Regions from separate parts of the Homo sapiens genome. Here region 1 is linked to region 2. The links come from fine-mapping of genetic effects on gene expression. A gene starts in region 2. The other region holds a variant in brackets. All regions are shown on one strand. Distances are between the middles of the regions.

Region 1 (8,335 bases), 32 kb before region 2:
GTTGCATAAATGGATGGATAAATGGATAAGTGGATGGGTGAGTGGATGGATGAGTAAGTGGGTGGATGAGTGGACGAATGGATAGATGAGTGGACAGATGGATGAGCACATCTTTGCTGATTATTCTTTAAAGGTGAAGAGGAGATGGTGGGTAGGTTGAGGTCTGGTTTTGCCTAAGTGAAGTGAAGCCATTGATAGGTTTGAGGCATGAACACCGCTTACCCCATCTAGTGCCAGTCTTACCTGAGGATGACTTGATTAGGAACCCATATGACACGTTGTACATCTATAAACTGATCAGACAACTCCTTTTGTGTGACCCCCAAACACTCATCCACAAAAATGTCCCATTTCCATTAGAAGAAATATCATGGTTCTCAGTCAGCTGCTTCTGCTGAGACCCCCACCTCCAGAAGATCTGGTAGAGGAAGCCCAAAGGCTCTTTCCATCGGAAGCATTTGCAGGTTGTAACACTTCTCATCCCACTCATGGAAGAGCAGAGACAGCCTGGTTGGGCGAGCACTCACTGTGGAGATGCACAGCCCTACAGGAAACAGCTGCCTTGTCCCTGTCCTGCTGAGTTTCATGGCATCACATGCTTCTGCCAACTGGAATCTTCTAGCGTGTGGTCCATGGGGATCAGATTTAAAGGCACCAAACTCTGAACAGTCGTACAGTGGCCTTGTGACAAGTAGTTTATCACATGACAATGGCATGGTGATGGTTACCTTCCCTAAAATATTAGGGAAAATTTCCCCTTTATGTAGTATATTTGCTAAAAATTGTATAAAAAATAGCCTAGTTCATAAAAGTAACACTAACCAAGTATACTTTAAAGATTACTTTTCTTGGACCAAGGATGTCTGGGCTCAATCTGCTTCCCCATCCAGGCCAGGCCTCTTGCTGATGGGCTTTGTGTGGGGACAGCAGGAGGACCACAACAGGGAGCAGGTGGGGAGATGTGGCTCACAGTTGTCCCCTGCTGCCCTCGGTTCCTCCAGCTCTGACTCTCCTGGCTCTGCAACTTCTATGGCTGACGTGTCAGCAATCGCTGGCCTTGCTCTGCTTTCTGGTGTTTGGGGCCTTTGCATTGCTACCCGTCAAACCCTGGTGTTCATAAGTGTTTGGTTTTATCCTGCTCAGTCCCACTGTCATACAAGACTCAGTCTTGGGATCTCAGGGAAACACGTGGGTCTCCTACATGAAAAGCATGGGGTCCCTTCCCTTTATGTCTCCAGCCCCGAGAGCGAGTTGCCTGATGGGAAGGAAATTCTTGGCAAATATGTTTGGGTGGAATTACTGTAAGGACTGGGTCTTTGAAGGCAGCACCTCCAAAGAATTCTAGCTTTTAATGTGGATGATTTGCTTCGTTTTCCTCGGAGTCAACTTGCCTGAGAAAGTTGTTGCTGAGTCCTTTCCAACTCAACAAGTTGAGGCAATATCTTGGAAGTGTTTTTAATGGGAGATCTCTGTTCTAATTCTCCTGGATTTCTCTTCAACTGGTTAGGATGGAGAGGAGGAAAAGAGGTCTGTTCTTGAATTTGAGTCTTGGTCTTACCACTACTGGGACTTGAGTGGTTAGACAAAAATGGTGGACAGACAGATATAAGGATTTGATGGTGAAGGAAAGGCTTTTTCACAATCTGTGTTTCTGTGGCCTTCCTGAGGGTCTCTTTCGTCCTTCATGGCCTGGCATAGGATTCTTCTATGTACTACTCAGATATAGTATGGCGCTATGGCTAGAATTTAGAGTTTTCCCAGCTCAGAAAGTGGGCAATGACCTGGACAGCCTCTTGGGATGCAGCTGGGATCCTAACTAAAAAGAAGCCAGGCTGGGCTTTCACAGGGGACAGTTGGGGTTGAGAAGCTCCATCCCCATGGCCTCCTTCCGCGGGACCCACTAAGGCTTGTTGGGACACGGCAAGCAATTTCCCATCATTATTATTCAGGGGAATTTCATCCATTCGAGTGGAGGTTTTGTCCATTTCTGGTTATTCTGAATTCCATAGGATTCCAGGCCCTTCCGGCTCTGAGGAGGAAACTTTCTAGCAAATGTGGATGCTTGTTTCCAGTCCTGTAGTTCCATATTCACATATTTTCTCACTCACGGAAGGGGTCAGGAAGAGAGCCGAAACCTCAGCAGGAAACTGGGTTGGGGGTCTAGGATGGAGCAGATTTGGAGCAATGCAGTGTTTTTGGAGCCAGGCCAGGGAATGCTGTGGTTATTACTCATTGTATTTCTAATGTTTCACAGGCAGAGCTTGGCGGTGTGCTTGATGCAAACATGGCAGATATGAACCTGGTGTTGTACCCGTGGGTCAGGATGAGGCAGGCATGGGTGTGTGTGAGGCCCTGGGTGTAGAATCAACCGAAAGTGGAGGCTTGCTAAGAAGACTCTATCTCCAATAAATCAGCTACCTGTGGGTCTGACTCCAGTCAAGATTGGCACCAGACTACCCTGGCTGAAGTGTCAGGGCCTCCCATCAAGGTCACGCATGGAAGGAGGAATCCGAGGGAAGCTGGGGAAGGTTGCTGGCTTCTCGCCTTGGGTGGAAAGGCGGAAGCCCTGGGGTGGGGGTTTAGGAGCAGTGCTTCTGTCCCCGCAGAGTTGGCTTGGCCATGACGGAAGAAAGCCCGGATCTCAAGCTGGGGCCTTCCAGAGGAAGGGGAGTGCTGATGTCAGGCAATCAGTCATGGAACTTTGATGTTGGGATCCAGTCCCTTGGGAGGGGAGTCCTTTTTTTTAAACTTTTAAGTTCAGGGGTACATGTGCAGGTTTGTTACATAGGTAAACTTGTGTCAGGGGGGTTTGTGGTACAGATCATTTAATCACCTAGGTATTAAGCCTAGTACGCATTTGTTATTTTTCCTGGTCCTCTCTCTCCTCCCATTCTCTACCTCATGATAGGCCCCAGTGGAGTAGGGGACCTTCTGAGTCCTGAGTCACAGCAGCTTTTATAAAGACAGGTTTTTCTTGGTGTCCGGTAGGCTCCCCTAGCTGGGCCAGCAGAGGGAGGTGGGTGCAGAGGATGGTGGGGAGGGCAGTGGGAGGAAAGGGAGACAGACAAGAGCAAGGGCTCCTGCTGGAGACTGGGTTCCTCCCAGGTATTAGGCCTAGCATGATGGGGTTTGTTCGGGGAGCTCATATCAGGGAACAGGAGCAGGGCTGAGAGAGTGAAGTGGGGAGAAGGGCAAGGTCTTCCACAGTGCTTCCTCAGGCTGGCCGCCACTGTGGGCTGCCGGATCCCATCCACTGGGCACTGAGGAGCTGGGGGGGACTTGCCTCTCAGAGTGGTCTGCCTGAGGACAGAAGGAGGAGCCGTCATCCAGTACATGCCTTCCCTTGGTCCAGGGCTGCCACACAGAGTCATTCCCAGGCTGTGTGGGCACCATGCGTGTGTCATAGAAAAGGTGCCCACAGGTACCTCCTGCAGGAAGCTTGTTGCTGCCACAGTGGCTGGAGTAAAAGGTGGGATGAGAAGCCGTGACGTTGAGTTCAAGCAGAGAGCTCTGTGATATGACGGGAACAAGAAAGGCTTCTGCACTGTTCATGAACTTGGTTGTAGCTTGTGGGTAACCCATGTCTTTCTATCTGGGGGAGGGAACATTGATCACCTTCAATTCCTGGGTTTCTGCTAGATGACCTGATTCCGGGGGAAGGTACCAGCTTTGGGAGTCAAGAAAAGCAACTCACCTAACGTATCTATCTGAGTCTTAGTCTTCTCACCTGTAAAATGGGAATAATAATTTATTTCCTATCTCCTGGGTATTGTGAGTTAATAGGGAATTACAATAATAAATTTCCAAAGGAAATGCCTTGCAGTGTGTAAATCCCTCTGCAGGTGTGAAGTGAAACTAATAGTGAAACACAGACGCATGTGAACTGTCGGCAGTTATGACAGCTGGCCCCTTGAGGGTTCTAGGTGCCTAGAGACTGTCTGGCACTTTTATATGCATAATATCATCTCATCCTCCTTGCAGCTCCTATGGCAGTCACTGTTATTATTCCCATTTACAGATGAGGACACAGAAACTCAGAGAGAGCAAGGGCCTTGCCCTGGGCCCTGCAGGAAGTGGTATTGGGAGGCTCCACGCTGCCTGTCTGCATTGCAGAAG[C/G]TCAGCCCCTTTCCTGCCCCAAATCTCTCACCACTGCTTGGTTAAACACGGTGTTACCTGGCTGTGTAGCACTGTGGCAAGCGGTCTACTAATCCTGATTGGATTCTAGGAATACCAGCAATGGGATGGCTGCCACCTGCTGACAGGGAGAATGGAGGAGGCCAAGGTCAAGCCCAGGGGCAGCCTGCCTTGGTCCTAAGTGTGAGCGGCTGGTGGAGATGAGCCAGGAGGAGGCAGAAGCTGGTAAGGAGGCTGGTTTTGCCTAGTACAAGGATTGTTACCAGGGCTCCATGAATAGGCTTGGGGCAGTGTCTCAGCCTCTCGAATGGCCTGTAAATGTATGGGCCCATGGGTGCATATGCTTTTTTCTAGGAAGCAGGTTCATCATTTTTATTAGTGTCATAATAATCCATGACCCTGAAGTTTGAACAGCAGTTCTCCATTGGGCCACCCTGGCATAAATGCAAGTGGTACAGGGCCCCTTGGATATCTCTGTACACATTGAGACCTGGACAACTTGTCCTTCTGAATGGCTTAAATCCCAAGAATTTTGCCTCTTTACGTGGCTGCTTTAATTTTATGTTTTTACCTTTTTGCTACTATTACTTATGAGCCAGAATTAGGAATTTTCCAAGAACTGGAGGGAGGGAAAATGTGTCCCAGCTTCATCACCCACGTGCTCTCTTCCACCGCCTTTACTTTTGTCTGCATTTTCTCCAAAAGGGTTAATGTTCTTATCAAATTCAGTTTTCTTTCTTTCACTAATGCGTATTCATGCTCTTTCAAGCAAGCAAGCAAATGTGCTTCTATTAGGCAATCAGTTCTGCAGATTACATTTTTTTAGTTGCTAGGCTAGAAAAATAAAAATAACCTAATAAGAAAGTGTTTATGTTGGAAGTAGGTATTCCAAAAAGAATAGTTCTTTTAAAAATAATTCCCCAAACAACTCTTAACAGGTCTTGATTCAAAGAGGTTTTGTTTTCTTTTTTTTTTCTAGCGTGAAAAGCAATATACATAAGCCAGATCCTTTCCTTGGGCAGCGTGGTTAATACTAGCACACATCACACCTGGTATTTGACTTCTCAGAAACTTGCTAAAAACCTTGTGTGGCCATAATCCCTGACTTGATTAACTGTTATTGAGTGTGTTCTGCAAAGTAACAGGAGCTTTAGATGTCTCCTGAAAAGAAAAGCAGAACAGACACAGATTGCCGAAATGAAACAGCAACACAGTGATGATATATTTTCACAACTTGAAATACTAAAAACGTGGTCAAAAGGATCCATCCGAGTCAGAGATTGGGCTCTGTCTGTGGCCACAGCGGAAGCCAGGTGCTGTGGGCTCACCACCCTGACCTTGGATGGATGGCAAGACTTGCCACCCCCACCCTCCTACTGAGGAGTCCCTTGGAGAAATCAATGGCAAAACTGGCCCCAAGCATGGAAAGGGGCTGCAGTTCTAAGGTGGACCGGGGCAGAGCTTGCTTTCTGTCTTCTGAGAAGTGGCTGGGGTAAGACCAAGTCTAGTGGACCTCTTGATGAGTAGATATCTGCCCTGCCCTTAAAAAGCCAACAGCAAACTACAGTGTAGGCACGGTTGCCAGATAAAATACAGACTGCCTAATTAAAATTGAATCTCAGATGAACAAGGAATAGTTTTTCAGTATAAGTATGTTCCATGCAGGTAGATGTCATGCATATTTCTGATATTGCTTGGGATATTCTTATCCTAAGAAGTGATGTGTGGTTTCCCTGAGATTGAAACTTAGCTGAGCATCCTGTATTTTTATTTGCTAAGCCTGGATACTCTAGCTCAGGGCAAAGTAGGCGCGGACAGGCTGTGTTGGCTCACCTTTCTGGTCAGGGCTATAGATTGTGCTCTCAGGTTCTAGGACTTCATGTAGCTGGAATGATGCAGTATGCCTTCTTTTGTGTCTTGCTTCTTTTACTTGGTATATTATTTTGAGATTCATCCCTGTTGCTGCCTCTATTGTAGTTTGTTCCTTTTTATTATTGAGTAGTATTCTACTGTAAGAAAATACTACAGTTTATTATCACGTCTGGATGGGCCTTTGGGTTGTTTCCAGTTCTTGTCTATTGTGAATAATACTTCTATGAGTTTTGATAGACACATTTGTGTGTGTGTGTGTGTCTCTCTCTCTCTCTCTCTCTTTGTGTAAACATTATTTTCATTTTTCTTTTCTTTTTTTTTTTTTTTTTTGTTTTTTAGACAGAGTCTCACTCTGTCACCCAGGCTGGAGTGCAGTGGTGCGATCTCGGCTCACTGGAACCTCTGCCTCCTGGGTTCAAGCAATTCTCCTGCCTCAGCCTCCCTAGCAGCTGGGATTACAGGTGTTCACTACCACGCCTGGCTAGTTTTTGTATTTTTAGTAGAGGTAGGGTTTCACCATGTTGCCCTGGCTGGTCTCGAACTCCTAACCTCAAGTGATCCACCTGCCTCAGCCTCCCAAAATGCTAGGATTATAGGCATGAGCATCCGCCTTGGCCTCCCAAAGTGCTGGAATTACAGGCATGAGCCACCACATCCAGCCATTATTTTCATTTTTCTTGGGTAAATACCTAATAGTATAATTGCTGGATCTTATATTGTATTAGTCTGTTCTCATGATGCTAATAAAGACATTTCTGAGACTGGGTAATTTATAAAGGAAAGAGATTTAACTGACTCACAGTTCTACATGGCTGGAGAGGCCTTACAATCATGGAGGAAGGCAAAGGAGATGCAAAGGGACGTCTTACATGGCAACAGGCAAGAGAGCATGTGCAGGGGAACTCCCATTTATAAAACCATCAGATCTCATGAGATTTATTCACTACCATGAGAACAGAATGGGGAAAACTGCTCCCATGATTCAACTATCTCCACCTTGCCCCGTCCTTGACACAGGAGGATTATTACATTTCAAGGTGAGATTTGGGTGGGGACACAGCCAACTGTATCATATAGTAAGTGTACATTTAACTTTATAGGAAACTGCAAAACAGTTTTCCAAAATGGCTGTACCATTTTACACTGTGGCCAGCAATATGTGAGTATTCCACTTGTTCCTCATTCTTGCCAACACTCGACGTTGTCTGTGTTTTTATTTAGTTATTGTAGTAATTGTAAAATAGTGTCTAAGAATTGTGGTTCTAATTTGTGTTTCTCTGATGATAATTCAGTTGAAAATCTTTTCATTTGCTTAATGACCATTCATGTATGTAAATAAATTTTGTGTTCGTCTTTTGTCTGTTTTTTTTTTTGTTAGGTTATGTGTCTTCTTATTGAGTTATACGGGTTCTTTCTATATTCTGGACACCAGCCCTTTGCAGATATCTTTCTCCAGTCTCTGACTTGCCTCTTCATTTTTATAGGTGTCTTTTGAAAAGCAGCAGGTTTTACTTTGATTAACTCAAATTTGTCATTTTTTACATTAATGTTTAGTGTTTTTCATGTTCTAAGAAATCTTCCTGCCTCAAGGTCACAGAACATTTATTTCCTTATATAAGTTATATAATTTAATCTTTTACATTTACATCTAGGATCCATTTGGAATGAATTTAATGTGTGGTGCAAAATAAGGGTTGAGGTTCATTTTTTTCCTCACGTGGTTATCCACATTTTTCCTCCATTTACTGAAGAGACCACCCTTTCCTCATTGATCGCATTGGTGTCTTTGTGGGAAATTGATCAATCATGTATGTGTGTGCCTGTTTCTAGGGTCTATCCTGCTCCATGAATTTGCACATCTGTCTTTACACAATAGCACACAGTCGTGATTATTGTAACTTTATAGTAAGTATTTAAATCACTTGTACCCAAATACCTGTTATAGATTACTCCACTTTCTGGCAGAATCCAAGCCAAGACAACTGGGGACATCTTACTGCACAGCTCCTTGCTAGCATCTCTACATTTTTACATTGGTACCTGTAGTGGCTTGGATCTGTTTCTGACCCTGTCTCTGGGCTAATCTATAAAAAAGCATTGACTGGCTATCCTTACCTGATATCACTGTAGAAAACATGTATTTTCCCTTCCTCTCTGCAATAATCGTATAAGATTATAAAAGTATAAGTTGTTGAAAGTTCTTAAAAATAAAGCTTACTTTGCATTTCTAATTTCTTAACTTTCAGTCTTTTTCTACTTTTGCTCCAAAAATGTTACCACAACAGACAAATGCCAGTGGTTATGTGTTAATACCAGGAATTTCAGCCTT
Region 2 (8,335 bases):
CCATGAAATCGGGCACGCTTGGATTGGAACGCCATGGCCATTCAGTCACAGCCACCCTTAGGCAGGTCACCTGGTCTCTCTGGGCCTCAGTTTCCTCAATTACAAAAGTGGGACAAAGACAGTGCCACCTTTATGGCTGCTGTGAAGATAAAATGAAAGAAGATAGGCAACATACTTAACAGAAAGATGGGAAAACATGAACACTCAGATTTACCTATGACTATAAAACCTTTCTAAACTTCATCAGAGAGTTCAAAAATGTTGTCAAGCCTTGGAACGTATATCTGTTGCATTCCTTTAAAACTGTATGCTATCACTGGAATTTGGCTGGGGACAGAGGAGAGAAGCGGAAGAGAAATAGCCATTCTAGATACCTGCAAGAAACCACTCATGTGCATCCTCTCGTTTAATCCTGACAAGCACCCAGCTAGAATAGAAGGCTCTATTATAATTATAAAGATAGGAACCTAACATTCAAAGAGGCTGTTATCTGAGGAGACATGGTGTTGAAGAGGTTAAAATATGCGATTCCAGCGTATTGACTAAGTTCAACACTTTAAAAACAGCAGGTGCAACAAGATGACTTTGACCTTCCTGCTGTTTCTTAAAAGCAGAGGGTGAAATTCCTATGTGAAAGATGCCCTCCCTAGATGATGCAACATTTTTATATAGTCAAAGTCGAAACTGGGAGAGTTCTGTACAGATCTTGTTAAAAATAACTCTTATCTTTTAAGCCTCTCCATATAATTTAGTGGCTTCTTCACAACTAACTCTTCTCTGTCCAATCCACTACATAATTAACTGACTTTAGCTACTTCTTTGGGGTCTTCATTTCTTTATGAGGGCTCCTGTGCTGCGTGAAGTTTGTATTAAGTTTTTCTCCTGTTAATCTATCTTATGTGGATTAAATTCTTGGACTCAGCTGGGACCCTAAGAGGAGGGAGGTAGACTTTTCCCACCCCTACAGTGTGTATATATCAGGGTTCCAAGCCAGGTTGTCTGGACAGAGGAACCCAATTCCCTTGAGTTGAGGGGCTGTCTTTGCTTTTAAGCCGTTGCCCTGCAGAAGGGGCTTGGTGTTGCGGTTATTCTGGGGGAGCGTCCAGTCCCAGGTGAAATGACTCCTGCCATGCCCAGCTACCAGATAATGAAGCTTCTTCCCAGGGTCACAACTCCAAGAATGAGGAACGCCTCGTCCTCAGGCCAGCGGCGCAGCTGAGCCTCTCTGGGCTCATATCACAGTCACCATAACTGCACTGTCTCCACTCTAACGGGGCTCCCAGATCACAGACCCTACCGGCCGCCGCTCTGGCCCGCCAGGATCCTCACGCTTTTAAGTCAGGTGCGGTTTCTGGAAGAAGCCTGGTGGTGCCACATCTACAGGCGAATCAGATCCCAGAGCAGACAGAGCTGACCACCTGCCCTGTGGGGCGTGCAACCCCAGGTGCAGATTACAGACAGGGAAGGAGGGAGGAGCTTAGCTGAAACCCCTTCCTGACCCCTTTCCAATAAGCACTCAGGGGTAGCAAAACATCCAGGAACTTTTAGTTCTGGGTCAGCTGGGACAGCGGTAGGGACAGCGTCCTGTTCGTGCCTTCTCTGAGTTTTCTATTAGGTGCCACCAAACACATTCCCACCCAAAAGAACCATTATATTGGACCTTACTGAAAAGGTTAAAATATGCATTCTGGCATGGTAACTGTTTCAGTGAAAGGCACTTGAAAAACAGCAGGTGCAAGATCACTCTCCCCATAGCAGAAGGAAGACAGCATCCTTATCCTTAGGACTAGAAGCTGCCAGCTAAAGAATACTGCAGAGCGTCACTCTAATCTTTTTAGTCACATTTTCAAAGTTTATTCTTCTCTGTTTAATCCAGTATTTAAGTAGTGGACGCGAACTGCTTGCTCGGGTCTGTCCCTCTTTCCTTCCTTTCCTTCCCTTCCTTCCTTCCTTCCTTCCTTCCTTCCTTCCTTCCTTCCTTCCTTTTCTTTGCTAGGGCCTGCCTTTCTCTGTTGCTTTCTTTCTTGCTTTCTTTGTTCGGGTCGTCATCTCTTTCCTCTTTCTTTCTTTCTTTTCTTTCTTTCTCTCTCTGTCTTTTCTTCCTTTCTCTCTCTGTCTCTCCCTCTTTCTTTCTTTCCCCAAGGAGGATTTGCCTGCCTGCCTGCCTGCCTTCCTTCCTTCCTTCCTTCTTTCCTTCCTTCCTACCTTCCTTCCTTCCTTCCCCCTTCCCTTCTTTTTCTTTTGACAGAGTCTCACTCTGTCACCCAGGCTGGATTGCAATGGTGCAATCCCGGCTCACTACAACCTCCGCCTCCCGGGTTCAAGCGATTCTCCTGCCTCCCGAGTAGCTGGGATTACAGACGCGCGCCACCGCGCTGGGCTAATTTTTTGTATTTTTTAGTAGAGATGGGGTTTCACCATGTTGGCCTGGCTGGTCTCGAACTCCCGACCTCGCGATCCGCCCGCCTCGGCCTCCCAAAGTGCTGGGATTACAGGCCTGAGCCACCGCGCCCGGCCGGGTCTGCATTTCTGTATGAGGGCTCCCATGCCGCGTGAAACTTGCACTATGCTTTCCTCCTATTCATCTATCTTATGTCAATTTAATTCTCGGACCCAGCCGGGACCCCTAGAGGATGGAGGTGGAGTTCTGCCCTTACACTGAAAGCACAATCTTCCAAAAGCAGAGACACTCTTCAAAACTTTGAAAAGAGACTTTTAGGTCCTAGGGCAATGGAATCTCGTTTTCTCAAAAAGCCCTGCTTGCTTACCCTCTCGTTTTCCCCCAGGCCTGTTTTCTGGGACAGGGTGGGAGGCCCAAGGAGACAGCCAAGTTCAGGCCCCAAGCACCCAGCTCCTCCTCCCAGGGTGGGAGCCTGGCCAGAGTTCCCGACCCACCCCGCCCCATTCCCCGCTGGCGCTTGGTCCGCCCCTCCCCGTCTGGAAGCCTCCAGCAGCCCCGCCCGGCGGAACTAGGGGACGGGTGGGGGACGTCGAAGGGCGAGGGCGGTGACCCCGGGGCCAGAATTCTCGCAGGCGCCTGGGCCGGGTGCCCGGCCGTGCGTGAGTGCGGAACAAGTCTGGGCGCGGGGAAGGGCGTGGGTGCGGGCCGTGGGTGGGTGCGGGGCAGGGCGCGGGGCTGTGGGAGGGCGCGAGGCCGTGTGTGGGTGCGGGGCTGGGTGCAGGCCGTGGGTGGGCGCGGGGCCGGGGCTGGCGGGGCAGGGCGCAGGCTGCTGCAAGGCGGCCTCGTGGATTCTGGCCCCGGACGCACGAAGCGGGTTCTACTTTTTAAAAAAACTGCGTTGCCTTTTCCTTCCTCTACGTTAGCATCCTGTCCGGGGTCCCCGGCCCATGTGGCCTTTCTTCCAGCGACAGTACACTTAGCTCAGAACGGATTGACACCCACTCTGTGTTTCCACCGGGCGCGCAGGCTCTGCAATGCGGAGCGCGTTCTCTGAAGGACAGGCCCCGGAGTCACGGCTACAGCCACAGAAAGCGGAAACCGAGCTGCAGTCCAGAGGGGATCCCCGTACATTTCCAGCGGGCTCAGACACAGGGTCCCCCACAAGAAAGAAACAGGACAGAAAAAGTCAGGACACGTATGCTGTGGAGAGTCGAGGTCTCGCCTAGATCTTGGGTGTGGGTAGACGCAGCCGCTGGCAGTTTTCCTTTCCAGCGTCTCTGGGGAGCCTGGAGATGTCCTTGGTGCCGATGTGACACGAAGAGTGATTGCGCCGCCCTGCAGAGGCGGTGGCGGGACGCTGCGCTCGGGCTGGGAAAGGCCGGCCCCAGGGCGACCCCTCCGGAGGCCCCCGGAGAGCAGGTGTGCACCTCGCCTCCCGCTGGGCAGCCAGTTCAGGAGAAAAATGTGAAGCTTTTAGCTAAACAAAATATTTCTTTCGTTAAGGGCTTTCTCCACACGGAGACTTTCTAGCCACGTGAGACTTTGACCTCCCAGTCCCCCAGATTCAGCGCTGGGACCGAGCGTCTGCTGTTATTTTTAGTAGAAGTATAAAAAGAATCTCGAAAAGTTTTAGCTCTGGAGAAGGCGTGAATACAGCTGGTGCCTTCATACACTCCACTTGAGCCGCTCTTTAAGAACTCCAGGAGATCAGAAAGCAATACGAAAGCCAGAGCATTGCACATGGGATGGGCTGGCGGGTGGCCTTTGGGTCCCTATCTTATGGACGATTTTTGTAAATGGGGCATTGGAGATGAGTATCACCTGGATCACATTTTTAGGTTGAATTCCTCCGTGGGGGGAACTTTAGCAATACGCATCCAAATAAGAATGTAGATTGCAATAATTGTAGTAAAGTGTTTGCCAGACTCATCTCAGAAAAAGACATTATCAAAAGGCATTTATTATCTTCCTAATGCGTGTCTGGCACTGGGCAGACACTGTAGAATACTATCTTGATTAGAGTCTCAAGGATTTTGTACTTAAAGTCCTTTACAAATAAAAGTATTCAAGTATAATCTATTATAAAGACTCTTTTCTCCACTTTGGGGATATACGGTGTGGCATCGATTCATTGGTCATACCAAAACTGTTACTTCTGTTTTGGAGGAATTAACAAGGAAAACCCAGGCTTAGTAAATCAACATCGAAGTTCAGAAGTTCAGAGTAATTTGTCTTGGGAACAAAGTCCTCCCTAGAGCGAAGAGGCATTCACAGGAGCTCTTGGTGTTAATGGGATTATTCAAGATATACCTGAGACCAGATAAATATTTGATGATTTTGCCAAGCACTAGGGTTTCTTTGCAGTTTGTCTTTGGCTGACGTTTTCCCCCCGTGGGGTTTGGACTTTGTGGCTTCACCAGATTTTGCAAATGAAAGAAGGCTGGGGTTTCCCAAGAGTACACTTGTGCAGGAAACAACAGACTAGTGAGGTTTACAAGAGGGGGGTGTGTGTGTGTGTGTGTCTGCCTGTGGGATGGGGGTGGCACGGGGGAGAGAGAGATGTGGGTTACAAAGCTGCCATCTAGAGGCTAGAGGCTCCTTTCTGCAGTGTATATAATGCAAGTCTGCAGCCAGCAGAGCTCACAGTTGTTGCAAAGTGCTCAGCACTAAGGGAGCCAGCGCACAGCACAGCCAGGAAGGCGAGCGAGCCCAGCCAGCCCAGCCAGCCCAGCCAGCCCGGAGGTAAGGAAACGGTGCTCGGGCAGCAGCTCTGCTCGGAAAGAAGGCACGGCTTCTGCTCTTAAGCCAAGTGGTCTTTTCAAAGGCCTTCTTTAAAATCGCTCAGATGGGTGCTTTTGAGTCTGCGGGTCTGGTTTCTGAAAACCCAGGCTGCACGCAGCTGCATTGCAAAGTGCTTTTGCTAATTCGGAGGGCTTCACCTTTCTCTTCAGAAAGCAAAGGGCAGTTTTCTTAAGTCACTTGCAGAAGGAAATTTCCATGTGTATTTAGGAATCTGGTGTTTATTTGCTGTGTGGCTATTTAAGCTCCAGTAAGCAGGGGAACTTTGCAAGAACACAGACTATCCATTCTGCCTGACCAATTTGGCATGGGGATTAGCTTGGCACCCACTGTTTACCTGTTTTGCTTCTAGTATATCAGTTTGGAAACAGATAAAATTGGCAGTAAATACGTAATTCCAGAATGATGAACACTTTATTAAGAGGCATCCTTAAATGGAGCAGAAAACTGCTGAGAATCTTTGTGAGTCCAAGATGTATTTGAATTCAGTACTTTGGGGGATTTACCAGAGTCTGTAAGTCCGGAAGCTATAAACGTGAATGTTAAACACAGCCCGGTCTTCTCTTCTCTTGATGGCACGCTTGCTAATCTAATTTGAGTATTGTTCTCTTAGAAGGTGTTAAGTCCAACTTCAATTGGGGTTGGGGGAAGCACACACACAAATCTACTATTTTGCAATTTAAATATACTCTTCAGGTAAAATGTGGATTTTGTTCAATTTTGTTGGCATGTGCAAAGATTCAAGGAGTGACTGAGAGAACTTTGGAGTGAGGTCAGGGATGGGTGGTTAGCCAAGACTTGTAACTTCCAGGGAGAATGAGAAGTTGTAAAAGTCAGACTGGCTGTCTCTCTTTCTCTCTTCCTCTTTCTTTCTTTCTTTCTTTCCTTTTGCTCACAACAGGATTACTTAGTGTTTCAAAAGTGGGAGAGAGCCTCCTTAAATGGTTTACAGCCCTTTGAATGTATTTGGTGCAGTGACATCCCCTGAAACTTCAGTCTGCAAAGTCTCAACATGGTAACTTTGTTCTTTTCTTTTTTAAAGGCAGATGCTGCTTTTAGTGTCCCTTTATTTATTCCAGGAAAAATGTGGACATCAGCTAGGCACGCCTAGCAAAGAAAGTGGAGGCTGCTGGTTTCTGTGCTTTAACTTTCCATAGATTTTAAATGGATAAACTGCTTGCCCTTCTTTCATCAGAATATGAGCTTTCCCCAGATGGAAAGTCTTTTCTAAAGCAAAGTTGCACATGGGAGCTCTAGCTTGGAAACAATTTGCTCTTTTTTCCCCAGTCTCTGCCATAAACACTTGAATGTGCACACAACTGCAGAGCTTAATGCCACAACCTCCAGGAGATTGGGGGGAGGGGAAAGCTGCCCAGGATGGGGGTGGGAAAGCGAAGGAAGATGGAGAAATGGCTGCAGTTTGCTGCCCATCAGCTTTTCTCTTTTAAGGGGCAGACATTGCAGACGTAGTTTTAAAAAAGTTCCATAAAGCATCGCCAAGGCAGCATGCCTGTGCGACACACGCAGGGCTTTGGGGGTGTGTTTTCCCCGTATTAACAGCAAGTCGTTGAAGCGTTGAGAAGGTATTATGATTTCTAATCAGGCCCAGAACAGGCCAAGTATAGGCTTTCTGAATGAAAAAAAAAAAAAAAAAAAAAAAACCCAAAACAAAAAACCCTGCTTAATCAGGAACAGTGGCTTTTTGTGTGATCATTTTAGGGCGAGAGCTCCTGTTTTCAAGTCGACGTGAGGGAAATTGGTTGAAGTCACTCAAACCTGAGGCTGAAGGGCAGTCACTTTATAAACCTTAAGAGTAACCGAGGGGAAAGAAAAAGACCTCAAAGATTGCAAAACTTTAGATTTTTTTTTTGTGATTTTGTAGAACATGAGGGGAATCTGGGGCCAGAAGGCATTTGTACCTTTAAACCAGGCAATCAAATAACTTAGTTTTATTATTAGAAGCAAGAATAGTATTAAAACGCCTTCAATTGGATTGCACGTGTGTAGGCATAATTCAGGAAGAAACTAAAGATCGTGTCATGTCAAGTGTTACTAAAGTTCAGGAAGGAAAAGACAAAGCTCCAGGACACGTATTTTCTGTTGAAATAAAAGAAAGCAAGCCAGAAATAGACAGATCAGGACAGGGAGGCGTGCAGGCGGTGGCCCTGATTTTGAATATTTGATGGTTTCCTTCAGGGAATGTTTGATGCTTTTATCGACTAATTTGGAATTGAAAAAAACAAAACAAAACACTATTGCTTCAATATTAAAGTGATCAGGGAATTGCATAATTTTATGGTGACAATTTTAAAGAGCCACAGGTAGTTTTGGAAGCAGACTGTGTTTTGTTCCAGGCACTGAAAAAGTGGATGGGGGCCGAGACTATCTCAGGTGGCCTTGAACCACTGTTGGCAAAGGGACAGATAACGAGCCCAGGGCAGTGTGGGGGACTTTGCGTTTTGAAGTCTGGGTCAGCCAGATAGTAAGCATCTTTTGCTTTTCCTGCTATAACAGATATGTGGCCATCCTCCCTCAGTTGTATATGCAGAGCCTAAGTTTGCACAGTGTCCTCCTGGGAACCCCATTGTGTCTGGCTTAGGGCGGGGGTGAGGAGGCTCTCCTAGCCTGGCTGACCTCCCACTGCCTCGTCCTAGTCCTAAGCTGGGTGGGAATCAGGGCTCTGGTTACACTGGGCCGGCCCAGACGGCAGCCTTTGTGACGTGGGAATCTCTGGACCTGCTCTTGTGGGTATAGCTTTGCTTCCCTGTCGGGCAGCTGAGCACAATAGACCAGATCAGGTTTCTGGACGTGGGATTTATTTGATCCCCCAAATCCTTAAAGTGGACGAGGGTGTCCCACGTGTTCATGTGAAGTATGTCTAAGGACCCTGGGAAGAGGTGGACTGTATCTGAATCAGGATATAGAGTTTTCTGTAGTTATTATTTTTTGCGTTCTCAAGTAATTCAAAGCAGTTATGTACTTGCATAAAATAAGATCACTCACGGTCACTAGTGAATGTGTAGTCAAGACTGTTTTCCATTTGCTGGCAGCAGAGGGGACAGACAGCTACCCATTCTGCTATCAGCCCTAGCAGATAGTCACAGAGAGTCTGCCTGGGCCAAAGCTCCCCTAGGT

Evidence for each region. PIP is the estimated chance that this variant, and not a neighbour inherited with it, causes the effect.
Region 1: its variant is fine-mapped to the expression of ACKR3 in whole blood (TOPMed, PIP 0.92).

Annotation. Positions count from the first base shown.
Region 1 is chr2:236,532,989-236,541,323 of GRCh38, forward strand. It overlaps a transcript of ACKR3 not described here. Among named protein-coding and RNA genes, the nearest start is that of DRC11, 30 kb to the left of the region's middle. RefSeq lists enhancers at 3,903-4,122, 5,226-5,275. The variant C/G (reference allele first, on the strand shown) is at 4,117.
Region 2 is chr2:236,564,782-236,573,116 of GRCh38, forward strand. ACKR3 (atypical chemokine receptor 3) reads left to right here and starts at 5,044. Exons shown (of 2, transcript NM_020311.3): 1 at 5,044-5,143. RefSeq lists enhancers at 2,529-3,404, 3,405-4,280 and a silencer at 3,054-3,103.